2 separate regions of the Homo sapiens genome follow, and region 1 is linked to region 2. The links come from fine-mapping of genetic effects on gene expression. A gene starts in region 2. The other region holds a variant in brackets. All regions are shown on one strand. Distances are between the middles of the regions. Region 1 overlaps ELOVL2 (ELOVL fatty acid elongase 2). Region 2 holds the start of ELOVL2-AS1 (ELOVL2 antisense RNA 1).

Region 1 (16,539 bases), 60 kb before region 2:
GAGCTAATTTTGAGGATGGGTTGATGGAAGTTGCAAAAACCATGAGCTTGAGATATTGGGGACATCTCTTTGGAAATACTAGAGAGGCTCTACTGCACATTGTCTTCTTCAGCGAATCCTTATAGCACTTCCTGTGTGCCATGTGCTGTGCTGGGTGCCAAGGATTCAATGTGATTTTGCCCCTGCCTGCAAGGAGTGGCAGTCTAATGGGGAGACAGACATCAGTCCAACACTTAGACAGAGAAACAGGAAAACAGCCTGGGGAGTGCTGTGCCAGGTGGTGTGTGAGCTCCCCTGGCCTGAAAAGGCAGGGCGGGGTGGCAGGATGCAGGAATCGATGTGCTTTTCCAGGCAACACGGAGAGAAGGCTGGACCAGGAGGCATCCTGGAGATGCTGACATCCAGCCCTCGGGGAAGAAGAGCAGCGTCAGCTTCCTCACCCTGACCTTGGGGACTGAGCCAGCCTTTGGGCCCATTCCCAGCCCTACACTCAGGCTCCCTTCCTTTTTGACTCACTCGTAGCCGGGAACAGCCCTGTAGCTACCCCAGCAGACTCTGTTGCCATCTGTGGCCTCAGCCTCATTTGTCATTTTAGGTGTTCCTCTGTGCTCTGACCTTCCATCCTCCGAGCAGCTCCCCTGAGGATTTGCTTTGCCCTCAGGCAGCAGATGAACTCCTGGCTTTTGCACTTGGAACCTCAGCCAACCAGGCCTGCGTGAACCAACCTCCCCTCTTGACTCCTTCCCCAACCTTCTTCCTGTGACAGAGACCGAGGCCAGTTTTTTTGCAGGGTTCAGGGCTCTAGTAGACTGCTTTCAGGGGGATTTGCTAGAGGCCATAGATGACTATAGGGAAGGGTCTTCTTTCCTGTATCGTATTAAGTTTTTATTGAACTCTATGGTTTTAAGAACTTTTTAAATTTTAGATTCGGGGGTGTATGTGTAGGTTTGTTAAAGGGTATATTGTGTGATGCTGAGGTTTAGGCTTCTGTTGACCCTGTCACCCAGATAGTGAGCATAGTACCCAATAGGAAGGTTTTCAATTCCCCCACCCCTGCCTTTTGGAGTCCCCAGTGTCAATTGTTCCCCTTTTATGTCCATGTGCACTCAAGGTTTAGCTCCCACATATAAGTGAGAACATGCGGTATTTGGTTTTCTGCCCCTGCATTAATTTGCTTAGGATAATGGCCTCCAGCTGCTTCCATGTCACTGCAAAGGATATGATTTCATTCTTTTTTATGGCTGTGTAGTATTCCATGGTGTATATATACCACATTTTCTTTATCCAATCCACTGTTGATGGGCACCTGGGTTGATTCTGTGTCTTTGCTATTGTGGATAGTGCTGGATAAACATACAAATGCAGGTATCTTTTTGGTAGAACAATTTATTTTCCTTTGGGTAGATGATACCCAGTAGTGGGATTGCTGGGTTGAATGGTAATTCAGGTTTTCGTTCTTTGAGAAATCTCCAAACTGCTCTCCACAGGGGCTGAACTCATTTACATTCCCACCAACAGGGTATACGCATTCCCTTTTCTCTGCAGTCTCGCCAGCATGTTGTTGTGGGCATTTTTCCCTGTGGTGACAAAGGCACCTGAAGCATCCCCTGCCCCAGCCCCATGAGCTGAGCAAGGGGCCGGCTTCTTTCTTACTGCTTCCTCCTCCTCCATCTCAGCTGCAGTCACTCAGATGCTCCTGAAAGTATTCAACACATACACCCCTTAGCTCTTCCTCCCTTTCAGCAACTACTGTAACTGTTCCTTCACATCCCTAGTTCTTCAGAAGGATTTTCATATGGCTTGCTTCATCATTGTTTTTCTTCGACTTCCCATTCATTCTAAAGCCCCCTGTAATCTGCCAACTGCCTCCCAAGGGCCAAATTCAGTGCCTTCCCCCCCCACGCCTTCACTAGTTGCTCACCTTGCTGCCTTGCAGCGTTTTTCTCTGTTTAAATATTCTCTTTTTCCTTGGCTTCTGGGACACCACTTTCTTTGAAGTCTATTTGAACTCTTCACCCGTCAAAACTAACCTCAGGCATTACTTCCTTTAGGAATGTTTCTCTGGCAATATATATATATATATATATATATATATTTTTTTTTTTTTTTTTTTTTTTTTTTTGAGAGGGAGTCTTACTCTGTTGCCCAGGCTAGAGTGCAGTGGCGTGATCTCGGCTCACTGCAACCTCTGCCTCCCAGGTTCAAGTGATTCTCCTGCCTCAGCCTGCCAAGTAACTGGGATTACAGGCATGGCCACCACGCCTGGCTAATTTTTGTAGTTTTGGTAGAGACGAGAATTCACCATGTTGGCCAGGCTGGTCTCGAACTCCTGACCTCAGGTGATCTGCCCATCTTGGTCTCCCACAGTGCTGGGATTACAGGCGTGCGCCACTGTGCCCGGCCTCAATACTTATTTTATAGCTAAATGTTTATCTACTTTATTAGACTATGAACTCTGAGGACAGATATTTCATCTAGATCATTCTATATCCCTAACACGATACGTAGTGCTGGACAAGATTTGATGAATTTTTAGACTGAATATAACTATTTCCAGAGTTTATCAAACTCCATAGGTCTAAACTAGCTTGAAAAGAATAGGAGCTGGTTCTACATGAGCTGTCTTACGTACAGTGCTTCAGTCTCAGAGAAATCTGCAACATCTATCATTTGTTTCTAGGGCCACTGCCGGTAAGTCTGTGTTCATCTCCCTGTAAGTATATCATATGGGCCCAGGCGAAACTCTATATAGACTTTCTCCTTTTGTTGTTCAATGTATAGGCATCACAAATTCAAATGCCTTCAGGGGCCAGCCAGGTTAATAGGCTGAATAAAAAGGATGAATGGGCCGGGTGCCGTGGCTCACACCTGTAATCCTAGCACTTTGGGAGGCTGAGGTGGGCAGATCACCTGAGGTCAGGAGTTCGAGACCAGCCTGGCCAACATGGCAAAACCCTGTCTTTATTGAAAAAAAAAAAAAAAAATTAGCCGGGAGTGGTGGCACATGCCTGTAATCCCAGCTACTTGGGAGGCTGAGGCAGAGGTTGCAGTGAGCTGAGATCACACCATTGCATTCCAGCCTGGGCAACAAAGTGAGACTCTTGTCTCAAAAAAAAGAAAAAGAAAAAGGATGAGTGATGGTGATTGTGGCAACTACAAGAGAAAATGCCCATCTCAAGTCATCCAGGTAGCTATAGACCATGGCACATGCAACATCAAGGGATGTGTGACAAGCTTCGCCTTCCTCAGCCTACCAAATGTGGTCACAGACACTTTCAGAACAGGCTCCCGGTGGGTTGCTCGTTAGATCCACAATGACCGCATTTACCAATTGCTCAATGAGGGTACGGATTACAGATTTCCTTGTCCTCTCAGTGTTATTCCAGTGTTCTGCAGTGCAATTGAAGATGGAAAAATGACCTACAAATCAATAGCTTTCAGTCTTTTTCCCCCTATGACTGAAAGTCATGTTTTACTGAAGGTCAGGGAATCCTGAGGTGACTGTAGTTAGTCTCCTAGGAGTGATTATTTCCTTGCATACTCTGGAGAGAAACTCTTCCTTAAATATGGGAATGTAATTTTTCTTGGAAGAGAGCCTGCTGTAACAAAAACACATGCTGAATTTTTTCTTTGCATAAAGGAATTAAGAGGCTTATTGATGTGAACGCTTGTTGAATAAGCAGCTCTTTAAGTTTGTGACAACAGTTATTAGGCTTGCCATAGAGACATAGGATTTATCTTTTATTTTTAAACACAAAGTTTTATTAAGTTCCACCCACCATTTAAAATAACAAAGGGAAGGCTCCTCTAAAACGTTAACCTCCCACCCCAAACTCTAGCCCCCATTCAGATAGCTAAAATAAGGTCTTCTCCTATTCCCTCTTCTCCTCCTGCCCTTCCTTAAAATCTATCCTGTCCCACCTGTCACTATCCAGGAATTTAAGCAATTTTTTAATCAGACTTTGAGCACATCTTTTGTAGTTTTCTTTAGGATCTGTGTCTCATTATACTTAATATCACATTCAAAACTCGACTCTCTACACTGACAAAACGCCAACCTGTGGTCCTGCCCCTCGCCTCAACTCTCCCAGGCATCCTCACAGTCAGGCCTCACTCACCTACATCTCCTCCCGAGCTGAGCTGACCACCTCTCTCCCCATGCAGGTGCTCTGTGAATTGTATCCTGGGTTTCAGGGCATTGCACGATGTCGTTCCTGCCTAAAAATTTCTCCTCAAACAAATCTAGTGCTCCTCCCTAGGTGGCTTTATATAGCAATTTATTAATTATCGTCTTTATATCCTCTGCTAATCTTACGTTTTTCTAGTGAATGGCCATTTTTGAAACAGCTTAACTTGGTATATGAATACAATGTAAAGGTAATGATATAATCCATTGCTCACTGAAACAAGAGAAGAATTAAATGTCTAAAATTCATGGCTAAAATAATGCCTTATTGTAAAAATAACTCCCAAGTGATAGGTCATTTGGAATTCCATGCAGGCATACATTTTAACTGCTTTGAACCAAATAAAACTCGCAACATGCATTTAATGTAAAAATCAATTTATTATACAACAATCATAGATAATGCTTTTTATCTACAAAGAGAAATGGCTTCTGCAGCCTCCCTGTCTACTCCATTCATGATACTATGTTCTTAAGATATAATTACTTTCAAAGGAAAACAAAGCGATATCCATATTTTCCAAACAAGGAAGCCCCCAGACACATTTATGAACGATATGGAAATATTGGAAAGAACTCAAATGGACTCCTAGATACAAAAGGCTGTTCTGCCCATCACAGTAAACACTGTTTTGCCTTAAAATAAAAATAATAAAATATTTCTCAAATGCAGGGGTGAGGACTTTACCCCGTAACATGCCTAAGTGGTTCGATATATAATTTTGATGGCTTGACAATTGCTATGTTTAATTCCATTCAGTTAACATTCCATTTTGTTAGTTTAAAAAATTGGGGGAATTATTAATAGATATGCTTTACAGTATTTAAGTATTTTCATTCCCATGGGTCAGAGGAAATTTGAGAGAAAACATTCTCCATTTTTTTTAATAGATTATAGAAATATTAATTTTTCAATAGTTTTAGAAAAATCACATTAAAATAAGCATTTTGGTTTTTTGAAGTTACAACACTTAACGACAGGTTAAAATGTTTACCTGATTTATTTTTTGTGGCTAAGATTTCATAACTATTTTTTTAATTAGCCCTTGAATGGTTTAAGGCTATAAGTGTTTTATGAAGCATCTCTTGAATTGAAGACCAAATTGGAAATACACATCATGAATGAAACCTCTCTCTAGTCACTGGCATTAGTTTGAAAGTATAAGCTACCCACATTTTTCACTTTCATCAGAGAGGTTTCAAGCTGCCTTGTACTTAAAGCTGCTTGACTTTGTCTGCTGAAGGACAGCTCCCTCCTTGCCATACAGATATGAAGCCCAGGAAAACATCCAGAGTGGCAGGTATGCTATGCACTGAGACCTTAGGGCCTCACTGGCACGTAAGAATAAGCTGAATGTGATGACCAGTGAGCATATTAGACCAGTCTGTCTTCTAAGTCTCATTTTTATCTGGAACGCACTTTGGTAAGAGATTTCAGCCTATATTTGAGATCTAAACTGAACTAGGGTCCAGTTTCTCCAAAGGGCTTTCTCCTTGGTCCAACTTGTGTTTTGTCACAGAGGAGCCATTAACAGTCATGCTTGAAGCTAGCCCTTGTTTTAAAATAAATTGCTGGGAGAGAACAAGACAGAACAGTTATAAGGTGATGCAAGATGGAAGTGGTGATGAAGCACCCTAGAGCAAGTCAGCTTCAGAAAATGATTTAGAAAGATAAATGTAAGAGTCAGGGGCATCACACAGGAGACATCTGTTCAACAGAAATGGGTCGGCCGCACTGAAGGGAAGGAAGCAGGTGCAGTGCATCACCCTAGAGACTATCCTAAGCATTAGGCACCTTCCAAAAAATATGCCCAAATCCTCAGAGGGGCAGTTTACATGAAATAAAAGTACAATTTTTTTAACAGGAGAAAGTTTAAAACTAGAGCTCAGGGGGGAAAAAAAGCCGAGAGAGAAAGGCACTCTGGACGCTAATGAGTGGGGACGGTGGTGGAAATGCCTTTCTGGTGTGCATGTATTTGATGTCAGTGTCAGGACCTAAAAACTTATTTAAAAAAATAAGGCAGGAGAGAAGATGAAGTGACTTCATCGAAGCTAACAAGTTTTATTTTATAGGGTATAAATTAATCTTCAAAAAAATCTTCAGAAAATATTCTTTGTTTCCATTCTTGGTAGAGTTTAGTAGTGAGTAACAGTCCTGCACTTATGGAGAAAGGAAATACTCATTAATACTTTTGTCTACTTTTGTGCTTGCTTCTCGGTAGAGATCGCATATACCTGAGCAGGGAACAGGAGTGCTGAGTTTGCCAAACTGGCATTTTTTATCGTGGCTCATGACCGGCCCACGGCTCAGTGCTGGAATCTTTCCAAGCTACTCCATCTTTTTCCTCCCAGCTTCAAAAACTTAAATAACCTGTGAAGAGTGACAACAGGTATCTGAGGTAATATTCACAAGTAGGCTCACAAAAAAGAGTTGACGAATTCAGTGCCTATTTTGCTCCCATCACTCTGCTACTTCTGCTAGTTCTGATTTATACATATTCCAGCAGCATGCATGTTCAAAGAAAAAGGTCGGAGTGGACTCCAGTGCTTGCTCAGAAAGTAAACGGGCAGCCAGATTTGTACACTGCTCGTGGTGTGGAGCATGGCATCTGTATAACCTAGGCTGACTGGCACAAGAGGGAGACATGAACAGATGAATGATTAGGGAAACAGAGGAACAATCCTATCCACAGCCCCTGAATTATGAAAATCTTGCAGAAGCATTTTTTTCTCCTTAGAATAACTAATATTTAAAATAAATACCAATTTCATTACCATATCACTAAATTTAGAATCAGGAGTGGTTGTGGGAATCTGATAGACAAGACTCTGGCTTACAGAAAGAGAAGTTTTGCTAGATTTTTCTATCTTCTGTGTATGATCCCATTTTAATATTTTCTGGGGTTGATTGCTAAAGGAACAAATGGAATGATTATGCACTGGCATTATTGCTTAATATAGATTAGAACATACCCTGTATTTAGAATATAATTAACATTTTGTTGTAAACATTTTAATCTGAACAAAACCCTTTTTATTTGGAGACTCTCTGTGAGAAACAATGCTCCACGTTTCCTGGCTGTGTATGCGTATAAGGCGTTATAAGGACAGCTTCTGGCGAAAGGTTCAGTCTGTGGGAGGGAGGGAGAGAGAAGCTGCACCAGTTCTGAGGTCCTCGGAGGTGAGCATCACCTCAATGCTGATCAAAGCATTCAGTTAACAGATTAACCTAATAGCAATATATTAATACATTCTGGGTACAAATGATTTATGAACTCAAAAGAAATTAGTTTATCCTAAAACATGTAACCTTCAATTCAGTCTTTGCTTTAAAACAAGC[C/G]AATCTGTTAGGCTAGTATATGTGCTTTTTCTGTTACTCATTTTTATTGTGCTTTCTTGTTCATCACTCCATTTGCTGCAGTGAAGTAGGCTTTGGAAAAACCATTCTTCACTTCTTTCCCTGCAGGTGGCTCTTGCATATCTTTCTTCATTGGCTTTTTTCGGTATGTCTGTTGGATGTGTATATTTTGAAGAGAAAAATAAAAAGGTTATTTAATAAGACCTTGTCTTTAACAGTGCATATAGTTAAAACAGTATGTGATTTTGTTGGGCGCAGGATTTTCTGTTTTTGTCTTTTTGAGGCAGAGTTTCAATCTGTCACCCAGGCTGGAGTGCAATGGCACGATCCCCGTTCACTGCGACCTCCGCCTCCCGGGTTCAAGTGATTCTCCTGCCTCAGCCTCCCAAGTAGCTGGGACTACAGGTGCACACCACCATGCCCGGCTAATTTATGTATTTTTAGTAGAGATGGGGTTTCACCATGTTGCCCAGGCTTGTCTTGAACTCCTGACCTCAGATGATCCACCCGCCTCGGCCTCCCAAAGTACTAAGATTACAGGCGTGAGCCACTGTGCCCAGTTGGGCACTGGATTTTCTAATAAGATTTCATGTTTATATATTATATTTTTTATTATTATTATACTTTAAGTTTTAGGGAACATGTGCACAATGTGCAGGTTAGTTACATATGTATACATGTGCCATGCTGGTGTGCTGCACCCATTAACTCGTCATTTAGCATTAGGTATATCTCCTAAAGCTATCCCTCCCCCCTCCCCCCACCCCACAACAGTCCCCAGAATGTGATGTTCCCCTTCCTGTGTCCATGTGTTCTCATTGTTCAATTCCCACCTATGAGTGAGAACATGCGGTGTTTGGTTTTTTGTTCTTGCGATAGTTTACTGAGAATGATGATTTCCAATTTCATCCATGTCCCTACAAAGGACATGAACTCATCATTTTTTATGGCTGCATAGTATTCCATGGTGTATATGTGCCATATTTTCTTAATCCAGTCTATCATTGTTGGACATTTGGGTTGGTTCCAAGTCTTTGCTATTGTGAATAGTGCTGCAGTAAACATACGTGTGCATGTGTCTTTATAGCAGCATGATTTATAGTCCTTTGGGTATATACCCAGTGATGGGATGGCTGGGTCAAATGGTATTTCTAGTTCTAGATCCCTGAGGAATCGCCACACTGACTTCCACAAGGGTTGAACTAGTTTACAGTGTAAACACCAACAGTGTAAAAGTGTTCCTATTTCTCCACATCCTCTCCAGCACCTGTTGTTTCCTGACTTTTTAATGACTGCCATTCTAACTGGTGTGAGATGTTATCTCATTGTGGTTTGGATTTGTATTTCTCTGATGGCCAGTGATGGTGAGCATTTTTTCATGTGTTTTTTTGGCTGCATAAATGTCTTCTTTTGAGAAGTGTCTGTTCATGTCTTTCGCCCACTTTTTGATGGGGTTGTTTTTTTCTTGTAAATTTGTTTGAGTTCATTGTAGATTCTGGATATTAGCCCTTTGTCAGATGAGTAGGTTGTGAAAATTTTCTCCCATTCTGTAGGTTGCCTGTTCACTCTGATGGTCGTTTCTTTTGCTGTGCAGAAGTTCTTTAGTTTAATTAGATCCCATTTGTCAATTTTGGCTTTTGTTGCCATTGCTTTTGGTGTTTTGGACATGAAGTCCTTGCCCATGCCTATGTCCTGAATGGTAATGCCTAGGTTTTTATGGTTTTAGGTCTAACGTTTAAGTCTTTAATCCATCTTGAAGTAATTTTTGTATAAGGTGTAAGGAAGGATCCAGTTTCAGCTTTCTACATATGGCTAGCCAGTTTTCCCAGCACCATTTATTAAATAGGGAATCCTTTCCCCATTGCTTGTTTTTCTCAGGTTTGTCAAAGATCAGATAGTTGTAGATACGCAGCATTATTTCTGAGGGCTCTGTTCTGTTCCATTGATCTATATCTCTGTTTTGGTAACAGTACCATGCTGTTTTGGTTACTGTAGCCTTGTAGTATAGTTTGAAGTCAGGTAGCGTGATGCCTCCAACTTTGTTCTTTTGGCTTAGGATTGACTTGGCGATGCAGGCTCTTTTTTGGTGCCATATGAACTTTAAAGTAGTTTTTTCCAATTCTGTGAAGAAAGTCATTGGTAGCTTGATGGGGATGGCATTGAATCTATAAATTACCTTGGGCAGTATGGCCATTTTCACGATATTGATTCTTCCTACCCATGAGCATGGAATGTTCTTCCATTTGTTTGTATCCTTTTTTATTTCATTGAGCAGTGTTTTGTAGTTCTCCTTGAAGAGGTCCTTCACATCCCTTGTAAGTTGGATTCCTAGGTATCTTATTCTCTTTGAAGCAATTGTGAATGGGAGTTCACTCATGATTTGGCTCTCTGTTTGTCTGTTATTGGTGTATAAGAATGCTTGTGATTTTTTGTACATTGATTTTGTATCCTGAGACTTTGCTGAAGTTGCTTATCAGCTTAAGGAGATTTTGGGCTGAGACATGGGGTTTTCTAGATATACAATCATGTCACCTGCAAACAGGGACAGTTTGACTTCCTCTTTTCCTAATTGAATACCCTTTATTTCCTTCTCCTGCCTAATTGCCCTGGCCAGAACTTCCAACACTGTGTTGAATAAGAGTGGTGAGAGAGGGCATCCCTGTCTTGTGCCAGTTTTCAAAGGGAATGCTTCCAGTTTTTGCCCATTCAGTATGATATTGGCTGTGGGTTTGTCATAGACAGCTCTTATTATTTTGAGATACGTCCCATCAATACCTAATTTACTGAGAGTTTTTAGCATGAAGGGTTGTTGAATTTTGTCAAAGGCCTTTTCTGCATCTATTGAGATAATCATGTGGTTTTTGTCTTTGGTTCTGTTTATATGCTGGATTACATTTATTGATTTGCATATATTGAACCAGCCTTGCATCCCAGGGATGAAGCCCACTTGGTCATGGTGGATAAGCTTTTTGATGTGCTGCTGGATTCGGTTTGCCAGTATTTTATTGAGGATTTTTGCATCAATGTTCATCAAGGATATTGGTCTAAAATTCTCTTTTTTGGTTGTGTCTCTGCCTGGCTTTGGTATCATGATGATGCTGGCCTCATAAAATGAGTTAGGGAGGATTCCCTCTTTTTCTGTTGATTGGAATGGTTTCAGAAGGAATGGTACCAGTTCCTCCTTGTACCTCTGGTAGAATTCGGCTGTGAATCCATCTGGTCCTGGACTCTTTTTGGTTGGTAAGCTATTGATTATTTCCACAATTTCAGAGCCTGTTACTGGTCTATTCAGAGATTCAGCTTCTTCCTGGTTTAGTCTTGGGAGGGTGTATGTGTCGAGGAATTCATCCATTTCTTCTAGATTTTCCAGTTTATTTGCATAGAGGTGTTTGTAGTATTCTCTGATGGTAGTTTGTATTTCTGTGGGATCGGTGGTGATATCCCTTTATCATTTTTTATTGCATCTATTTGATTCTTCTCTCTTTTCTTCTTTATTAGTCTTGCTAGCAGTCTATCAATTTTGTTGATCCTTTCAAAAAACCAGCTCCTGGATTCATTGATTTTTTGAAGGGTTTTTTGTGTCTCTATTTCCTTCAGTTCTGCTCTGATTTTAGTTATTTCTTGCCTTCTGCTAGCTTTTGAATGTGTTTGCTCTTGCTCTTCTAGTTCTTTTCATTGTGATGTTAGGGTGTCAATTTTGGATCTTTCCTGCTTTCTCTTGTGGGCATTTAGTACTATAAATTTCCCTCTACACACTGCTTTGAATGTGTCCCAAAGATTCTGGTATGTTGTATCTTTGTTCTTATTGGTTTCAAAGAACATCTTTCTTTATTTCTGCCTAGATTTCATGTTTATAGTATCATTTTTAAACTTCTGGTTAAAGATTAAAAATAAAGACCAAAACAAATGCATGTATTTCAATGACTATTAGAGGTCACGATTTGTATATTGTGGGGCTGGCAAAGTATTCTGCATTAGTTGCTCACTTGGAAAGATAAAACTTTTAAAAATAATTCAAGTGGAAAAAGTGCTGTTATTTTAAAATACCAATACCTGGGATTCTGGCTTGATCTAGTTTTTGGCATATCCTTCCTATTCTGACAAAATACCTGATCTCGCATCTCATTTTCACTTTTTTTTTTTTTAAAGCAATAGTATTAACAAGGATCCAAACTTAAATTATATGCTTGACTTCAGAACTAAGATGCAGTTTGAACCAGCATGTAGGGCTAAGGCTTTGAATGCCATTACCTACTCTTGCTGGGCTATACGCTTCTCTTCAACACGAGGTACCAAAATCACTCCCTTAGCTTCCCTTTAACACTTAGCGTTTATTGGGAAGTTGGGGGCAGGGGTTTGCACACCCACACATAGCTTTGTTTGGTCTCATCATTGATTATTTCTTTGGAAATCTTCAAAGGAAACCTTTATCTCTTAAAACAGCCTAGTCCAATTTCAGAAATACAAGACCTGAAAAGCTGTCAAAATTCAGTTTCCACTGTTCCACACTGTATAAAACCACTATGGGGATGTGTGTGGTGGTTCACACCTGTAATCCCAGCACTCTGGGAGGCCAAGGTGGGCGGATCACCTGAGGTCAGGAGTTCAAGACCAGCCTGAACAACATGGAGAAACCCCATCTCTACTAAAAATACAAGATTAGCCAGGCGTGGTGGCACACGCCTGTAATCCCAGCTACTTGGGAGGCTGAGGCAGGAGAATCACTTGAACCCAGGAAGCAGAGGTTGTGTTGAGCCGAGACTGCGCCATTGCACTCCAGCCTGGGCAATAAGAGCAAAACTCTGTTTCAAAAAAATAAATAAAAATAAAAACCACTATGGGTTAACTTTCAGCAAGTGCAAACTAAAAAGTAAAGCACTTCTTATTAGTCTGAAAAAAATACAGTTGAATACAATTTCAAAAGTATAGTTTTGAATATAAATGTACTTTGTTTTTTAAACTAAGCTTTCCATTTCCCCAGCCTACAAAAGAGAGCAATTTAAAATCTACATCCACCTGAGGCCTCTTCTCTGTTATAGCTTTCATCCGTTCTTGTACAACAGAGTGGCTTTGAAACTGCATTTTGAAGCTGTCTTCCATTTAAGTTGTTAACTAAAAAGAAAATGACACTGGATAAAGACGTCGGTGCGGCCTTTCCATCCTGGTTCCCAAACAAACAGTGAGGCTGCAACATCAGGGTAGCTGATAAGGAACCAATTTTTAAACATGAAATTCAATAAATTAAAAACATTGAAGAAGCCCTTGCTTTGCTCCATTCACATTTCCTGGATCTGTCTTACTATACACGTTTTTAACTTTCAGATGTCAGACTTTGGTAGCATGGTACAAATACATACTGCAAATTGAGAACTGTATATATAATCCAATGATATTTTTGATAAAACCTTATGTGTATGCATTGAAAAATGTTTTTAAAAATGCCCACTAGATTATTAACTGTGGTTACCCTTTGAGGAGGAGGGTGTGGAGAGAGGAGTTAGGAGTGCAAATTTCACTTTGTGTATCTGCTACCTGAATTTATCAACAAGCATGTGCTACTATAATATTTAATCAGTAAAATTAAACAAATATGTAATGTAAAAGTGCATGATCTAGGCTGGGCATAGTGGCTCACGCCTATAATCCCAGCACTTTGGGAAGCCAAGGCAGGCAGATCACCTGAGGTCAGGAGTTCAAGACCAGCCTGGCCAACATGGCGAAACCCCATCTGTACTAAAAATACAACAATTAGCCGGGCCTCTAATCCCAACTACTTGAGAGGCTGAGGCAGGAGAATCACTTGAACCCAGAAGGCGGAGGTTGCAGTGAGCTGAGATCATGCCACTGCACTCCAGCCTGGGCAATAAGAGCGAAACTCTGTCTCCAAAAAAAAAAAAATAGTGCCAATCGATTACATTTTACTGCTGAATATTTACATTCCACGTACCTGAACGTAAAAATTTAAGAAGAGGATGACTAACGTTAGCATATAAGATGACTGGAAGATGAGACAACCGAAGGGGAAGCCACACGGTTTCACGACGGCGCTCATGGTGTGCGTGATGGTGAGCACGAACTGCACCTGGGGACGGCAGAGAGGGCATCTCTGTGAGCGAGCCAGGCTGTGCCACACAGACACTGCGGCCAAGCTTGATCAATTCAGAAATCAACTCCTAGGACTCTTGGAATTATGTAGGAACAAAACAAAGCTGCTGAAGCAGCCCCCTCATCCAGAAATCTTATTTGAAATTAGTATGTGAAATTGCCCATGATTTCCTCATGGAAAAGTCGCAGTTAAAATTATTTAGACAAAAAGGATTTAACTTACACATTAATTTGAAAAGTAATCATCTACATTTCAAAGCAAGGAACTTTCCATTATAAGCTAATAGCATGCACAAAGGGCATTTCAACACAAAAAGTTTAATTCTTAAAAGGCCAATTTTGGAAAAAAAATGGGCAGCCTCATCACACATAAAAAGCCCTCTGACTTCTAAGATTTCTATTTCCTTTCCCCATCCATAAGCCACATGGAGAAAAGCTAAAAGAAGGGACAACATACCAGCTGAGCCTGTGTGAGATATTTCTTCCACCAAAGATACTTGTGCATAGATGGAAACACAGAAAGTCCATAGTAGGAGTACATAAGAATGTGGATAAAACTGTTCAGTGTTGGTCCAAAGAAACCTATAAAAGTACAGTATAAAAATCACTATTCTTCCAGGAAGGACTGTTCATTCTTCTTTGTCAAGTGAGATTCTCTCTCTGCATGGTAATTGAAAATGAGTAGCACATATGACATGATCATATAACAAAATCCACACTAATAAATTCCCCAATTACTGTGCCAGTTCTAGGATTCACCAAAAACTCCATGATAGAAGGAGTAGCCTGGGATGGTTTTTCAGAATGCCCCCCCCCCGCCACACAGGGGAACACCTTATCTACGAGGTTTTACTGTCTCTTTAACCGTCACTACTATCAGCTACTGAGGGAGGAAAAGAAATACTAGCTTAAAGCTGTTGGCAGAATTCCTCTGAAATAGAATTGTCTTTGCTTTTTAGCTAAACCTTTGATAAGACATATTGACAAAGAGCCTTTTGTACATGGCTGAACAGGGTGCTAGAGAGACAAAATATATTGCTTTCATAATTAAGTAAATAAATTCTGCCTGAAAGACACTTAGGGACCGGGAGGTGCTGGAGAAAGAATAAAGGAGACAGAGAAGGCTGGAGTGGCGGAGAAACTGGCCAGCGAGACCTTCCCAGTGATTGGCCATTGCAGAGACTTTTAGGATGAGGGATGTCTAAAATCCAGGCCCCTGCCATCAACCTCATGAAACGTCTCTGTAACTGCCTCCACCATAGGTGAATAAGGCTTCAGGAAACCATGGAGAAAGGGTCATGTACCATGCTGGGTCAGCTAAGCATTGAAAGGATTTAGCTGCAAGAGGTGAGATGCCACAGATGCATCACTTGTTGGAAATAAGGAAACTCAGTGTTGTGAGGATTTCATCAGTACATGAAAGTGCTTAGAACAATGCTTGGCACAAAGTGAATGCTCTTCAGCTGTCAGCCTGGGATCCAGATGGCTGTTCTGCGAGCTATCCTGTGGTGGGAGGGATTGTGGCATTAGAGGGCCATTTATTGGCTATGTCCCCTTGGAGACATTGATTTGACGTAAATTTTTATTTTCTTACCTGGAAAATAGGTATAATAATAATAACTAGCTCTTAAGTTTGGGATGAAATTAACTGAGATAATATATGAATTTAAAAGCACCGCACATATGCTGGCTAATAAATCAATTTAAATTCCCTAGCCTGGTTCTTTAATCCTAGATTAGTGATCTGGATAGCTAAATGCAAATTAATAAATAAGAAACAAAAGGTACAATAGCATGCATAGAGTAAATTCTCAACCAATACTGGCTGAAATAAACTGTTACGGCGCTTGAATTTATATGAAAACACAAACAGAGTTTCAGACTACCAAGCAGCATAGTATTAGTGGTATTTCTTTACCTACATGACTTTTCATTTCCATCAATTAATGAACCATGAGTAGTTGTTGCTTATGTTTGACTCCTGTGGAAATACAGCACCTTCCACAGTCACCATTTCACTGTGATACAGATTAAGGCATTTCAAAAAATTGAAAGTCTGCTCTGGTAGGTCAAAGTATCATTTTTCTAATATTCTTAAGCAGAAATTGTCACAGTATTTACAGGACTATGTCTGTACACAGTGATGATTTGGGTTTTAGATGCTTAGTGATTTGTAATGAAACTTGACAATCATAAAAATACTTAACCTTGGTAATTCTCCTCTAATATTGATTATAGTTGTCCTTCCTTAATAACTAAACTCAAGAAATGGATGTCTACCCGTCTAGAAGGACAGAGATCAATTCTTTCTTTCTTCCCCCTGCACTCACAGCAATTTCCTCCCTCACTCTAGTGTTCATTTGTACCTTCACAGTCACTGATACTCCAAATATCTCTGGGCACTTTTTTCCCTAATATCATCTCTACAAGATCCTAAATCCTGGAACAAAGTCATTTTGACTGAAGTTTTACATGTTCTGATTTTTCATATTGTATTTCTAAATTCTTGAGAACAAGACAGTATCAAATAGAGAGTACTGTTCCCTATAGCTCAGTGCATCTCAAACTGTAGGTCATAACTGACCCATTAGTGAATGGTGAAGTCAATGCAGTGAGAATTGTCATCAACTCTTTGTAAAACAGGATTAGGCCGGGCGTGGTGGCTCACGCCTGTAATCCCAGCACTTTGGGAGGCCGAGGCGGGCGGATCACAAGGTCAAGAGATCAAGACCATCCTGGCCAACATGATGAAACCCCGTCTCTATTAAAAGTACAAAAATTAGCTGGGCGTAGTGGCGCACGCCTGTAATCCCAGCTACTCGGGAGGCTGAGGCAGGAGAATCACTTGAACCCGGAGGCAGAGGTTGCAGTGAGCCGGGATTGTGCCACT
Region 2 (16,539 bases):
CAGGGGCTGTCTTTTATATTTAAATTGACAGTGCTTACACACTGCCTCTAATTGAGCAGTACTGAGCACGTGCTGAATGAATGAACAATGAGTGTATCTAATCAAAAAAATGACTGAGGCAATGTATTTGCATGTCTCGAGAGCAATTTTAAAGAATATGTATTCAACGTAGAGAGCATATTTCTTTCCTTCAAAAGGAGAACAAATGCAAAATATTAATTCCAAAGTTTACACTAAGGACTTAAGACTGTTACAGACATATGTTCTGTCTTACACGAAGCAAGTACTGATGAGATTAGTGTTACGAAAGGTATTAAAATAGGGTGTTTCTGCTTACTTTTAAAATTGTAAACAGAAAGTCATTTATGAGATAGTAAACCTAATTTACAAAAGGAACATGATAGCATTTTAGTAGCAGTGGCAGGACTTTAAAAGCTTTGATGTCATAATCCTGCTATTTTTTAACAGAGAAACATGGCTTCCAAAATATAGTGAAGCCAGTGTGGTTGCTTTGTATTCTTGAGTTTGATGCAGACTTCAGGCAGTAAATCTCAAAATGACTTGTGATATATGCCATTTTTTTTAGGAGTCTGAACACAGAAAAGGCCAAAGGAAAGGGGGCATTCTCTTCCTTACAAAGGAATAACAATTCCCTGGGCTCTGGAGATTGAGATGTGAAATAGCCCACATGTACCATTTCGACTGCGTTGCCCCGGAGGAAAGCACAGCCAACTGAGTATTTTTCTGACATCCCAAAGCACGCTCTTCAGCATAAATTCACCACTGACATTAGAACAGTCATGAAATCTGCATTTCCAAAAGTCAAGGAAGCTACAGATCCAAGAGAATGTCTTCCCTGTAACAATTTCAGGAAAGCTTCTAGAATGGGAGCAGAAAGGATCAAGGTATTGGCTTCCTGTTTGTCCCAGCATGCCTTGGAGAACACTCTGCATAGACCTTCCAGAGACAAAATAGAACATCAGTTGTTCAGAACTGAATTTTCAGGAAAATTGAAAATAGCCTAATTTTACTTTTGCCTTATGGACATATTCTGTTTTCTTCTTTCAAAGCATGAGTTAATTTTTTTTTTTTTGAGGAGGGAGAGAGATGGAGAGGAGAGAGAGAAGGAGAGGGGAAGAGAGATGGGGAGAGAGAGACAGAGGAGGCAGAGAGGGAGAGAGAGACAGAGAGGGAGAGAGAGACAGAGGAAGAGAGGCAGAGAGGGAAAGAGATAGAGAGGCAGAGAGGGAAAGAGACAGAGAGGTAGAGAGGGAAAGAGGCAGAGAAGGAGAGAGACAGAGAGGGAGAGAGAGACAGAGAGGCAGAGAGGGAAAGAGACAAGAGAGGCAGAGAGGGAAAGAGAGAGGCAGAGAGGGAAAGAGAGGCAGAGGAGGAGAGAGACAGAGGAGGCAGAGAGGGAGAGAGAGACGGCATGAGTTAACTTTTAATCTAACTCCTCAGTGTAATGGTCAATGAGCTCTTTGACCCTGCCAAAGAAAAAAAAGGCTCCTCCCCATTGTCATAATGCATGTTAAACTCCAAGATCTCATTAACCAAATTCTGCTTAGTCACGTGGAAAATTCAACAGATTTAAATCTTTAAAGTATTGGAAATAAAACCAAATAGTAAATACCATATATGATATCAAAATTTTTGTGTAAAGCTACTGCTGTTCTGATTAATGTTTGAATACTACACTCGTTCTACTAAAAAAAAAAAAAAAAAGTGATGGCCTTACTTCTCTTGAAAATTACTACTATAAGGGAGCACTGTACCAGCCACATGCTCAGTACTGCTCATTTATAGGCAGTGAGCCCTCAAGTCACTCAGGCCACTCAATGTTCTTCTATGTCTGTGTACCATTTTATCCAAAAGAAAGCTTTGTTCCCCTTAAATTATATTAGTCAGTGGATTAAGTTTGATAAGTACATATGGATGTTGTTCACAATCACCTCCATTTCAAATAATATTTTCCTTTGCAGGTTCCATTTTCTGTATATATGAAATGAAACTTAAGACTTTATATATTTAATATGTTTAAGTGTATATATGCAATATATGTATATATCCATATCTATCTATCCATCCCTGTAATTTATGGGAAAGAAACTACATGGGGAAGTCACTCTGATTTTTCCATTTTCATATGTAATAATGGGGAAAAGTACTACTGCCTTTCTCAAAGGCTAAGGCTATATGGAATAGCAGAAGAGGTGGTTATTTTGGATTGAGAATATTTAGAGCTGGTTTTGCTACCTCTAGTATGTGACCTTGGGCAAATTATTTATCTTCTTTGAAACTGTAAAGTAGGTATGTTGCTACAGGACTTGCCTCTCACAAAAGTTTTTTTGTGAGGCTTCAGAAAGAGTTAAGGTGGATTAAAATGCATTGAAAAACATTCAACTGATTAATAAATGTAAAATAGTATTATTATACAGTACTTGAATCATATTTAAGTTATGCTAACTAAAGGCCACACATATATGTAAAGTAAAAATAATTATTTATTCAGCATGGTGTGCGCCTGTAGTCCCAGCTACTCGGGAGGCTGAGGCAGGAGAATCGCTTGAACCCTGGAGTCAGAGGTTGCAGTGAGCCAAGATTGCGCTACTGCACTCCAGCCTGGTGATGGGGCAAGACTCCAGCTCAAAAATAAATAAATAAATAAATAAAAATAAAAATAAAATTACTCAGCAAATCCATATATCATAGCTTTGTTTATATTTTAAGATAATCATTTTTAATTTCAGCAAGAACTTAATGCTATAAGTATAGATTTATCTAAAAATAGAAATACATATGCATTTTAATTTCATTAAAAACTTATGATGAAATATGGATTAAATTATTTAAAAATGACATAACCTGGCCCTTTCCACAAATATGACTATGAAGTGTAAATATGCTGTAGGAATACATATTATCATTTACTAAAAGGTTACACAGGCAAATGTGTATTGATGAAGCAGCTGTATTACTGAAACATGCTCAAACTGAATTGTGATAATTAAATAATTTTAAATTTATCAAGAGATTAATGATTAAATGGTTCCAAGTGCTATGTAAATTAGCAAACTGCTAGTTTTAAGTGCTGTGGAAAAAAAATAAAGCAGTGTAAGAGGATCAGGTGTGGTACATATCCAACTGTGTGTGTGAATATGGTGTGTGACATATGGTAAGGCAGGTTCCAGTTTTAGTAGAGTGGTTAGGGTAGGTCTAATCATGAAAGTATTAAGCAGACAGACATAAAGCTCTCTGGGGGAAAGATGTATACAGCCAAAGGGCAGCCAATGTAAAGATGCTGAGGCCCCATTTGATTCTAACAAAACAATCTTGTGACAGAGATAATACACCATTTAGCAAGTGAGTAAACAGTGTCTCAAAGCAACTTAAGCAAGGGAATGGAGCTAGTAAACAATAAAGCTAGGGCTAGAACCCAGGTTTCTTGACTCTTGGTCCAGTGCCTTTCGTTTTCTCCCTCTGTTCACCAGGCACACAGGAAGGTGCCCTGTTTCTTAGAAAGCACTGCATAAACATCAAGTTTCATTGCTATTGTGGTGGTGGTGGTGATTGTGATTATTAATCAGTTCCATGATATTTCTCTGTTACTATTTTTTAATTTATGCATCATAGTTGTACATATTCCCAGGGTACATGTGATGTTTTGGTACATGTATACAATGTAATGATCAAGTTAGGGTAACTGGAATATCTATCACTTCAAACATTTATCTTTTCTTATGTTAGAAATATTACAATTCTCATCTAGCTATTTTGAAACATAAAATAAATAGTCATATAATTTCTCTACTGTACTACAGACTACTAGAATCGATTCCCTCTGATATTTCCTGAAAGGAAAATAAAACTCAAAGAATGATTTCATCTTCCCTTCCCCTAGCTTATTTTTCTCCTTTATCTGTGCTTCTTTTCTTGAGTGGATCATTTTACTATCAGACTATCTGTGAAAGTAATTATACTTCTCTGGATATTTGACAAAGGAAAGGTATTAAGGGTAGGAATAACCTATAAAATAGAAACCATTTCTGACAACATGAAAAAGGGCTGAGGAAGGAATGGAGAGAATGTGGAGCCCAGTGATTCAGCGAGAGATATACATTTTCCAAGAGACAGGAAGTAAAAAAGTTAAAACAAAGAGTCTACAAAAGAGGAGATCTGTAGAAAAGGCAAAAATGGTGGAAAGGGGGCTCAAGGGGTGGAGGAAAGAGATTTTGAAATATTTTCAAGTAAAAATATGAGAATATTAGACAACAAACAATATAAAATAAAAAAGAGAATAAGAATCAGATTTCAGACACAGTAGACTGAAGAGCTGGTGGAATTACTAACAGCAAAAGAGAACAGAGAAGAGAGTCTGAAAGATGAGTAGCTTTCTTTTTGTAATGCTGGGTTTAAGGTGGCAGTGAGGTTCTCACTAGTGGAAAGGGTGTAAGAGCTTTAAGAGGTAAACTTGGAAGTTGTGTACAATCTAGAGCTCTTTGTCCAATACGGTAGCCTCTAACCACAGGTGGCCACTGAGCCGCTGAAATACGGCTAGCCTGAACTGAGATGCACTCTAAGCATAAAATACACACTAGATTTTGAAGATTTTCTATGAAAAAAAACAATGGAAAAATCTTTTTCTGCATTGATTACATGTTGAAATATTTGCATGGATTGGGTTAAATAACATTATTAAAACTAATTTCACTTGTCTCTGTACTTTTTAAATATGATTAGTAGAAAACTGAAAATTACATATGCGATTTATGTTATATTTCTATTGGACAGCAATATTAGTTGTATATTAAGACCACAAAAGGGACAGAGACATCATTCTGAAGTGTCTCAACTAAAATAGATATGGGAGAAAAAAGAACACACATCATTATAATAGTTAATATTTACTAAGCACTCCAAGCACTGTTTTAGACACATAAAGGGCACCATCATATTTGTTCCTCCCGAAAACCTTATGAAATATTATCATCTTTTACAGGATAAAATACTGAAGCCCAAGGTCACACAGTTAAATGCTGGTGTCAGGATTCAAGCCCACGAATGACCTCAGATCTCAGGTTCTAAACTGTCACATAAATTTCAGAACAAGTTATGCTCTCCAATTATTAAATGGTTAGATTTAAAATGTCATAAATTAACTATTTATTAGAATTGTTCATTGTCAAAGTCAGTTATGTCCCAATTCAATTAAGAAGAAAAGCTACAAATGCGTGAATCTGTAACTGTAGAATTACTATGAGCTACTGATGCTGGCGTATTTTCACCACATTGGGCCATTAAAGAAGTTTCTGGTGCAACTTCTTTCCCCTTATCAATGTCTACTCCCAGAAATGCAAACCTGTCAAGTTAGATGATACATATCCAACTGTCCAACCCAGACGATCATCCACCTAACCCTGAATAGCAGGGCCCTGTTTTCTGAACATAACTAGATACATAATATCTACTTGACACATTTTCAACATTCTCTTTCGGAACATGAAAGCACCTGAACCTCCCAAACTGACTAAAACGTTTTGAAGGAAACTAGATTAAATGGAACCCTTGTTGAAGAACCAAAAATTAGGCTTACCCAACTGGATACTTTAAAAATTGATTTTTTACTCCTTGAAAATGCTATACGTTCGAAGAATCGAAAGAGAAAAAGGCTGGATACTTTGGAATCCTAGGAATCCTAACAGTAAAATATCCTACAAATAGAAACTTAAGTCAATAAGGTATCTTTCATTCATCTTTGGTTGGTTCATTGGTTTTAATTTCAAAGACAAACTTATATTTCTTTCCTTTTTACCTTTAATTTCTACTACCTACCTGGGAAAGATGGTAACCACAGAACTGCTGAACTTACATAGTCATAGCTATAATTACATAATTTTCAAAAACTTATGTAAATTTTATTAAACAATTTGTTTCCAATTAATACATTTCTCCAGACTAATTTTTAAAAAACCAATGCCATAAATCCACATTATAGAAAAACAAAAGGAAATTTGAAAGAAAAAATATTTATTTTGGAATAATAAGACTAACTAGCAGAGATATCTTACAAGACAGTTCATATTGGACATGTATTGAAAAGGATGTCTCTCTGAACTGACCCACTAAGTTATTTATAAATTCAACCCCCTAACTTTCCTACTCCCTGCCCATTTTTTTTTTAAAGTAATACGATTTCAGCCGGGCATGGTGGCTCATGCCTTGTAATTCCAGCACTTTGGGAAGCCGAGGTGGGTGTTGATCACTTGAGGTCAGGAGTTAGAGACCAAACTGGACAACATGGTGAAACTCTGTCTCTACCAAAAATACACAGATTGGCCTGGTGTGGTGACGTGCGCCTGTAATCCCAGCTACTCAGGAGGCTGAGGCACGAGAATCACTTGAGCCCAGGAGGTGGAGGTTGCAGTGAGCCAAGATTGCATCACTGCATGCCAGCCTGGGTGACAGAGTGAGACCCTGCCACAAAAAAAGAAAGAAGAAAAAAGTAATACAATTTGGATTTGGGTATTAAAAAAAAATTCCTCTGAAGACCCACAGTTTCTGAGAAATACTTATCTAAACAGGAAGCATCACACTTGGGCAGGATAAAGCTTTCAAGAGCTTGCCCTTGATTTTAGCTCTTTTAGGTTAACATTCCCATGACTTTCCTATTCAGCTAAAGAGATTTCCTTGGACTTATTCCCTTACTCACTACAATTCCTACCTATACTTTAGGACAAAGCTTCAGAGCCCAAAAGGAGAGCCAGTTGGTCCTAAAAATGCTTTGTCCACTCTGATGCCAAGGTGCAAAGAGCATGAAGCGACAGACAAGGCATAAGAGATAGCCGCCTAGACTCGTCATTGAAGGCTGCCAAAATCGGGTCCCTCCTGTCGGGAGTATCTCCCTCCTCCCAAACTTCACTTGAGACTCTCATCATTACAAATGTCAACTGCATAATCTTTGCAGTTACTCCCCACCTGTGCATTAACATAAAGCAGCTTGCTTTATTGGGTTAATTCAAAAGAGTTATCAAGTACCTACTGTGCGCCAGGCACTGCTGTAGGTACTAGAAATCTAGCAAGCAATGAACGAAATGACAAAAATCTGTGTCTTCCTGAAACCTATATTCTGGTAGAGGAGACGTTCAAGAAACAAGCTAAAGAAACAAAATATGCAGTACGCTAACTAATACATGCTCAAGAGAAGACAAATGAAGCAGGCAAGGGGAATATACACTGTGGTGGGCGGGGTAGGAAAGGTTGGAATTTTAAGATTAAGTGGTCACACATAATCAGGCAGATGGTACGTGCCTAAAAGGGTAGCCAGAGCAAAATCAGATGGAGTGGGGAAGAGAAAGGAAGTGCGCTTATTTTAACAAGTCCTGAAGTGGAGAGAAAACCCTACGGGAAGGGGGTGAGGCAAACACTGAATATGGACCACTGAAGACAAACGCGGATTTCACATTTTGCCTAAAGACCAGTCCTTTGAGGATGGCACAACAGATGTTCTCCCTTTGTAACCAAAGAACCAGGCTCTGCTACTAAAACTGTCAGGCAGTTCATCGGACACGGGTGAACACACACACACACACACACACACACACAGCTTACTGTCAGGCAGTTCATCGGACACGGGTGAACACACACACACACACACACAGCTTACTGCCGAGGAGAAAGAAGCGTTACTAATCCAGAGTGGAGGACTGGCCTGGGAAATCGGGCAGAGAGAGGAGTTGTCGGAAAGAACACACCAGAAGCCCCTCCGAGCCCAGACACTGATAGAAACCCAGCCGCTTCCCAAGCCAATCTGCAAACCCAGGAGGCACCCACGAGTGCACAGACACACCCCCGGGGTGCAGGCGCGGTGAAGGGAGGAGAGGGGCAAGAGCTTGACCGTTAGGGCCCGAACCCCAGAACTCCCGAGGCAGGGTGTGTGCCGCGCGCGGGAAACGCCGTTCTCCGCTCCAGGCGTCGGCGGGCGGTGGCGAGAGCAGGTTCGGGGGTCCGGAGGGTCGGAGGGTGGGCTGCGCGCGGGAATGGCCGCCGCGAAGGAGGGGCGGCTTCCTCGGGCATCCCGGGCGCCCGGCCCCGTGCATGCAACAGGGGACTGGGCGCGAGCGGGCGCCTCGAGGTGCCGGGGCGGGACCGGGGAGAGGGGACCGAGACAAAGTTCCCGAGACCCGCGGGCCTCGGGCCGACCCGCGCGCCCCCGGCCCAAACGCTCAGCTCCCGCTCCCCAGGCCCGCGCGGACCCGGCCCCTCCGAGGGTAGCGGGTTCCAGCGGCGAACCCGCAGCGCCCGCGCCGGCGCCCGCTCGGCCCTTTCCCGCCCGGTGCGTGGGTCCAGGAGAGAAAGAAAGCGCGGCGGTGTCGGTGGCGGCGCGCGGCCCCACTCACCATGATCCGCAGCGGCTGTGGCGCGGCGACCCGGGCGGGCGGCGATGCGCTGTCCAGGGTAGCCGGGTCCCTCTGCCCGGCGCTATCTCGGCGCCCGCGCCGGTTACCCCCACCCACACCCACGCCCGGCGCGCGCACACCCGCCCGCGCCTCCCCGCCCCCTCGGGCTCGCGCCGCCGCCGCGCGGCGCTCCGAGCCTCGGGGCCGTTTCGTCCCCGCCCCCTCTCCCACAGGGGCCTCGCCGGCCGCCGCGCCAGGAGGGCGCGCGGGGGAGGGGCGCAGGGCAAGTGAGGCGGCGCCCCCCGCCCCTGCGGCCTCGCGCGCCCCCTCCTGGGCGACCGACCTCGCCCTCGCGTCCGCGGCGTCCCCTGCCGGCCGGGCGGCGATTTGCAGGTCCAGCCGGCGCCGGTTTCGCGCGGCGGCTCAACGTCCACGGAGCCCCAGGAATACCCACCCGCTGCCCAGATCGGCAGCCGCTGCTGCGGGGAGAAGCAGTATCGTGCAGGGCGGGCACGCTGGTCTTGCTTACAGTTGGGCTTCGGTGGGTTTGAAGCACACATTAGGGGGAAATGGCTCTGTTCCTGCAGGTTTGCGCAGTCTGGGTTTCTTAGGTTTAGGGGGTTGGGTGGGTTTCTCTGGGGGTGCGGTGGGAAGCGGATCAGTTCGGATAACGGCCCTGAGCAAGAGTCTCTGTCCCGCTCCCGGCCTGACGCGGGGCTTCCAGCGGACACGACCAACGGTGAGCGCACCCTCTTCACTGTGAACAGAACGGTGGCCTCCTAGAGCCTGCGCTTCTAGTTACTTTAGTTGTGTGTGTGGCCCAAGTGAAAGACGTCGAAAAAATTGGACTTGCCTGAGTATTACATGAACTTTCTTCCATTTCTCCCTCAAGCATGGGAAGTTGGCGGGCGTGGTGGTTCCCTCCTGTAATCCCAGCACTTTGGGAGGCTGAGGCAGGCGAATCACTTGAGGTCAGGAGTTCGGGACCAGCCTGGGCAACATGGCGAAACCCCGCCTCTTAAATAAAAAATACAAAAATTAGCTGGGTGTGGTGGCCTGCGCCTGTGATCCCAGCCACTCGGGAGGCTGAGGTGAAGGATGGCTTGAGCCCTGGAGGTGGAGGCTGCAGTGAGCCGAGATCACGCCACTGCACTCCAGCCTGGGCGACAGAATGAGACCCTGTCTCAAAAAAAAAAAAAAAAAAAAAAAATGTTTACCACATGTGAGGCTCATGTGGTAAACATGTTTATTGGGGTTGAGAGCAGCCCGTGTGGCTGTGCACGGAGGTACCTGCACCATACACTTAGCATCCCACACCTGGGGCGGTGTGGGAGCCCTTGCAGAGTTTTGTGCAGTAGCAGAGTGAGTAACTGTAGGTACCGGGGCTAAATCTTAACTGTCATACAATCACCTAATATATAGTTTCCTAATAGAGAGTTTTTCTTCCTAATATAGAATTTCTGTAGCTGAAGTGGTAAATATTAGGCATATATTTGTTTATAAAAGGCGGATGATTTTATGACCATAAACAGGTTAACCTAGTCTGATAAAAATCTCAGGAGTCAGCTCTGCCACATACTGGGTGTGTGGTATTGGGTTGGTTACCTAAACTGTCTATGCTCCAGTTTCCTGATTTACGAATTTGGGATAAAATAGCACTTAACATTACATGTAGCTGTTAGGGTTAAATTAATATGGGTAAAACTCTAGAAAAATATCTGGTACAAAAGTACTAGTTATTGATTTGTTATCAATTTGATGCATTTGAGAATCAGAAAGTGATATTCTATTTAATGCTGGCATATTTTTATAAAAAAGTGTGGCCCAAATCAAAGATACAATTTGATTTCAGCTTCACTTACTTTGTTCACTCAGCAAAGATTTCAGTGCCTACTATGTGCTAGGCGTTTTGGTAACAGCTAGGGTTACAGTGATGAAGAAAAACACAGTCCCTGCTGTTAGGAGTTTTTAGAACCTGTGATGATCTATATTATGATATTGAGAGACTTGAAGGAAATTCACACGAATAGTCCCCAAATATTGTTTTTCCTTGGAATGATTTTATTCTTTCTGTTTTACCTGTGTTCTTTCTTCTATTTGATACGTGTTATATTTGAAAGCTATAAAAGTAGCTTCCACGTCTTTTGGATATTGAATGATAAAAACTCTGGACCTGAATTTCACTGTATCACTAATCTGATGCAGTATAATGTGAATTCTTAATCTAGATAGTGATTTTTTGACATTATTGTGTATAAGTAGCACCAGAGGGTTTAATACTATACAGGGATACTTGAGATCCATCAAGATGACCTCAGGTACAGACCAAGAATATGAATTTTTTTTTGGTTTTGCTTTGGGTTTAATATTTGCTATCAGTTTCACATTGCGGGAGTATCTACTTCATTCCAGAGGCATCTCTGACCCTGCATAAAGTATAATGGACTCTCTATGGGTCTTGAAGTGGTGAAACCTCCATTTCTAAGGAATATGAATTTTGAACAAGCACCACAAATGATACTGGTGCAGCCAGGCAGTCCATGGATGATATTTTGAGAAACTAAATTCCATTATCCATTCAGGGAAAGCTTTAGTCTATTTTTCTAACAACATGAAGGGAAAAAACAATTTTAAGTGACAACCGACCTCTAAGAACCCTGCGGCTGTTGCTTGCAAAAATTGTATCATTGATGTCATCTAAACCTTGCAAAGCACACCAGGTAAACATGGGGAAGGAATTCTTAAACTTTGAATTATCCCTATACTTCCACATTACCATTTAGCCTGATAATCATTATTTTACCTTTATTCTCTAAAAATACACATCAACCCATAAGGCCAGAAGGAGATCTAAAAAGTCATCTATATCTTATCTGTTTCTTAAAATATTATTTTATGGCTTTCCTTATCACTACAACAAAGGAACAAATGAGACGGCAAATGCCAGAGGGTCTTTTTCCCCACCAATATTTTATTAAATAGAAAAAGGAAGTGGTGGCCAGGTGCGGTGGCTTATGCCTGTAATCCCAGCACTTTGGGAGGCCGAGGCAGGTGGATCACAAGGTCAGGAGTTTGAGGCCAGCCTGGCCAACATGGTGAAACCCCGTCTCTACTAAAAATATGAAAATTAGCTGGGCGTGGTGGCGGGCACCTGTAATCCCAGCTACTTGGGAGGCTGAGGCAAGAGAATTGTTTGAACCCAGGAGGCGGAGCTTGCAGTGAGCCGAGATAGCGCCATTGCACTCCAGCCTGGGTGACAGGGCAAGACTCCATCTCAAAAATAAATAAATTAATTAATTTTTTTAAAAAAGGAAGTGGTTCTACCTGTATAAACACAGGACTGGAAACATATCTTAACCAGATATAACTGGGAGAGGGTCTTAACTGGGTATAACATGAATTCCCACTTAATGGAAAATTTAACATGCCATCACTTACATGATTTTATAATATTTACTTTCGTTGTTCTCTTGTATGGATTACACAAAAGCTGGACTCTGTTTCTTAGCTGTACGGCAAGCCCATATTGAGCATGTGTACAATAACATAGACTAATTGTGTGTTAGGTACTTACATGGATGTGGTGCTATATAAAGTGATGATTAGCATAATCTAAGAATCTTAAACCTAAAAATAGAGATCTGACTGATGCTCTTTCTCTCCCTCTGTCACATATCGTAGATTTTATAGGTTCAGAAAGTGTGTCTCAGAGGAGTTAGAGAAGACCGATTAATAGATGACAGTGCTAAAGCCTGGATCTCCTGAATCCTGGGTGAGTATTCTCATTGTCTCTACTGCCTCTGCAGTGCTAGTCTGCCAGCCCTCATCAAAATTATGAAGTAGGCAAGCTTTGTTTTGGGGGGAGTTTAATCTCCTTTTAGTGTGGTTCTCTTCTGAAGCATCCCTTCTTTTGATATACCTAGCATCTTTGTGTTTTATCTTGAGAAAAATACTCACTTACAATGTATTATGACTTTAAATCAGTTTACTACATTTCTTCAAAGTATTTGTACTTTTAGGGTAGTAGTAGAAACAGACTCTGGAAATCACGTCCTTTCCTTGGCCATGGGCTCTGCTTTGTGTTAAGAAAGCTCTGCACCTATATGAGTTTAGAAATGAAAAATAGTAAGATAAAGAGTAAAGATTAAGCCCAAGTGAAGGCACATTGAAAAAACTGAGTTCCCTCCATCAAATTTAGTGCAGCTTTCACTCGATATGTTAGGACTAAGGATTTATGACAAAGCAATATATGTATATATTGGTCATTTGATTGGATGTAGTAACAAGGAGACAATCATGACCTTGTATCAATCCAGGTTTAAAATAAAGTTTATGTTAATTCATTTGAAAATATTATGCTGAGTACTATATTCTAGTATAACATTCTAGAGCAGAGGATGGCAAACTACAGTGGCAGGACAAATCCAGCCAGTTGCCTGCTTTTGTAAATAAAGTTTGTATTAGAATACCACTGTGTCCTTATGTTTACGTATTGTCTGTGGGTGCTCTCATGTTAGGACAGCAGAGTTGTGACACAACTGTATGGTCTGCAAGTCCCCACATAGCTACTATTTGGCCCTTTACAAGAAAAAGTGCCAATTTCTGTAGAACTTGGATGATATTAATATGGTATGGAACAATATAGGTGACTTCCCTTGTTTTATGAAGCTCATATTTCAACGAGAGGAAGAAGACAATAAGTCTAGATAGAGAAATGTCATGAAGAAACAGTATGATGATAGAGTGACTTGGGGGTAGCACTTTATTTTTCTAGGTTTTTGCTTTTTAAGTTTTTTATGTATTTTAATTTTTATATATTTAATGCATACAAGTACAGATTTCTTTTTTAATTATTATTATAATTTTTTATTTTACTTTAAGTTCTGGGATACATGTGCAGAATGTGCAGGTTTGTTAATAGGCATACGTGTGCCATGGTGGTTTGCTGCCCCTTCAACCCGTCATCTAGATTTTAAGCCCCGCATGCATTAGGTAGGTATTTGTTCTAATGTTCTCCCTTCCATCACCCCCCAACCCCGACAGATTTTGGTGTGTGATTTCTTATATGCATATATCGCATATTGGTGAAGTCTGGGCTTTTAGTGTACCCATCACTAAATAGTATACTACCTGATAGGTAATTTTTCAACCCTCCTAATTTTTCAACCTGTTAAAGTCACCAGTGCCATCCACGTTGCCGCAAATCACATGATTTCATTCTCTATGACTGACTGGTATTCCACGGTGTGTGTATGTATGTGCATGTATGTGTACACATTTTCTTAATCTAGTCCTCCATTGATGGACACTTAGGTTGATCCCATATCTTTGCTATTATGATTAGTGCTATGATGAACATACAAGTGCAGGTATCTTTTTGATATAATTATTTCTTTCCCTTTGGGTATATACCCAGTAGTGGGATTAAGGGATCAAATAGTAGTTCTATTTTTAGTTCTTTGAGAAATCTCCATACTGTTTTCCATAAAGGCTGTACTAATTTACATTCCCGCCAACAATGTATAAGCATTTCCTTCTCTACATCTTTGCCAATCTGTTGTTTTTTGACTTTTTAATAATGGCCATTCTGACTGGTGTAAGATGATGTCTCATTGTGGTTTTAAAATGCATTTCTCTGATGATTAGTGATATTGGGCATTTTTCATGTTTGGTGGCCACTCGTATGTCTTCTTTTGAAAAATGTTGGCTGGGCGTAGTGGCTCATGCCTGTGATCCCAGCACTTTGGGAGGCCAAGGCGGGCGGATCACGAGGTCAGGAGTTTGAGACCAGTCTGGCCAACATAGTGAAACCCTGTCTGTACTAAAAAGACAAAAAATTAGCCGGGTGTTGTGGTGTGCACCTGTAATCCTAGCTACTTGGGAGGCTGAGGCAAGAAAATCACGTGAACCTGGAAGGTAGAGGTTGCAGTGAGCTGAGATTGCACCATTGCACTTCAGCCTGGGTGGCAGTGTGAGACTCTGTCTCAAAAAAAAAAAAAAAAGTCTGTTCATATTTTCTGTCCATTTTAAAATGGGATTATTTGGTTTTTTCTTCTTGAGCTATTTGATTTCCTTGTAGATTCTATATATTTGCCCTTTGTCAGATGCATAGTTTGCAAATTGTTTTTCTATTTTGTAGGTTGTCTGTTTAATCTGTTGGTTATTTCTTTTGCAGTGCAGAAGCCTTTTAGTTTAATTAAGTCCCATTTGTCTATTTTTTGTTTTTGTTGTGTTTGCTTTTGAGGACTTGGTCATAAATTATTTGCCTAGGCCAGTGTCTTTTAAAAGAGTTTTTTCCCAGGTTTTCTTCTAGGATTTTTGAAGTTTCAGGTCTTACACTTAGGTCTTTAATCCATCTTGGTTAATTTTTGTACATGGTGAGAGGTAGGAGTCCAGTTTCATTCTCTGACATATGGTTATCCAGTTTCTCCTGCACCCTTTATTGAAGTAGGTGTCCTTTCCTTGGGGAGAACACTCTAAATAGGATGGTCAGGAAAGGCCCCTCTAAGCACATAATATCTAAATTGAGATCCATTGATGAAAACAAGCCAGCCATGAAGCCATGAGAAGATCTAGGGGAAATCCTTCCAGGAGAAGATAGCAAATGGAAACACTTCGAGACAGAAAAATCAGGCTTCTTTGAGGAACAGGAAGTTAGCCAGTGTGTCTGGAAAGTGTGAATCATCAGGGATTGTAGTGAGGATGCAGACCAAATCCTATAGATAGAGATCCATGTGTTTGTTGACACCATGGCCACTGGTCCCTGCTCTGTTGCTATGCCTTTGAGGACCTCAGTCCTAAGGAATCCGGGTCCTGGCAGAACATTTTTATGTGATGTTTACTGGTCAGCTGCAGTTATCCTAGTTTAAAAAATCTAATGGGGGCCATTACTTTGTACCCTTGTAGCCATTGGACTTTATCTTTCATCTTTTTGTTATGCTCACTTAACTGATCTTATTTACGCATTCTTGCACTTTACCATTTTGTCTTTCACAGATGCTATTTTACTTAAATTGTCTTTGTTGATTTCTTTTTAAATTTTTTTTTAAAATGTATTCATGGCAAGTAGCACGGGCATAAAGTGGGATAGTGTACTTCACAAGGAAGGCAGTCCCTCGGCATGACCTGCGATAGCCATCCCAATCCATACCACAGAGTGGCTGTTCCTTTCCCAGGTGTACCCCTCCAAGATTAACCCCACACAGTAGTCCTCCAGCCTATTTTTGTTGCAAACCTACTCTACAGCAAACTTGAAGCCTAGAATTCAACTGAAGAAGGAGAGAAAATGCTGATAAAAATGCAACCATTTAGGTCTCAAGGAGGGCACACTGCATGGACTCCCCCTTTCCATTCCCCATTGTGTGATTGTGTGAGTGTGAGTGTGGGGGGGTGTGGCAGTGTGAAGCCACACATCCTCTTCTGCTAGAATTAGAGTAATGTAAATAAGAGACTAGACTAGCAACTCATAATTAATCATTTTGAAGTCTATGATTTTTTGGCCTGTAGTTGGGCTGATCTGTAACAAATGATTTTTACAACATTATTGTAAAGTTGGTTTTTTTTTTAGAGATGGGAATCTCCTTTTTTTTTTTTTTTTTTGATCCAGAGTCTTGCTGTGTCGCTCAGCTTGGAGTGCAGTGGTGCGATCTCAGCTCACTGCAACCTCTCCCTCCTGTGTTCAAGTGATTCTCCTGCCTCAGCCTCCCAAATACTAGGATTACAGGTGCATGCCACCATGCCTGGCTAATTTTTGTATTTTAGAAGAGACGGGGTTTCACCATGTTGGCCAGGCTGGTCTCAAACTCCCGGCCTCAAGGGATCTGCCTGCCTCGGCCTCCCAAAGTGCTGGGATTACAGGCGTGAGCCACCACACCTGGCCAAGATGGGATCTCCTTATGTTGCCCAGATGGAGTCCTGAACTCCTGCGCTCAAGGGATCCTCCTGCCTTAGCATCCTGCGGAGCCAGGATTACAAGTTCGTGCTACCACAAATTCTTTTCATTATTGTAAATTATTGAAGATGTTATTGTGAATGTAGTTGGTGATAAAATTTACATGGATGCACAAAATTTAGTAGACTCTTCCCTTGACTTTGCTTCACCTTAGACTGACTGGTCCTGCATTTTCTTTCTATTGTCATCAAG

What was found. PIP is the estimated chance that this variant, and not a neighbour inherited with it, causes the effect.
Region 1: its variant is fine-mapped to the expression of ELOVL2-AS1 in spinal cord (GTEx, PIP 0.92).

Annotation. Positions count from the first base shown.
Region 1 is chr6:10,976,212-10,992,750 of GRCh38, forward strand. ELOVL2 (ELOVL fatty acid elongase 2) reads right to left here. Exons shown (of 8, transcript NM_017770.4): 6 at 14,107-14,231; 7 at 13,492-13,626; 8 at 4,548-7,695. The coding sequence ends at 7,570. Among named protein-coding and RNA genes, the nearest start is that of ELOVL2-AS1, 59 kb to the right of the region's middle. RefSeq lists an enhancer at 1-472. The variant C/G (reference allele first, on the strand shown) is at 7,527.
Region 2 is chr6:11,035,832-11,052,370 of GRCh38, forward strand. It overlaps ELOVL2-AS1 (ELOVL2 antisense RNA 1), which reads left to right and starts at 7,927. Exons shown (of 5, transcript NR_038964.1): 1 at 7,927-7,994; 2 at 12,078-12,168; 3 at 13,278-13,388. It overlaps ELOVL2 (ELOVL fatty acid elongase 2), which reads right to left and starts at 8,474. Exons shown (of 8, transcript NM_017770.4): 1 at 8,397-8,474. The coding sequence starts at 8,399. RefSeq lists a silencer at 8,370-8,569 and enhancers at 9,004-9,504, 9,505-10,005.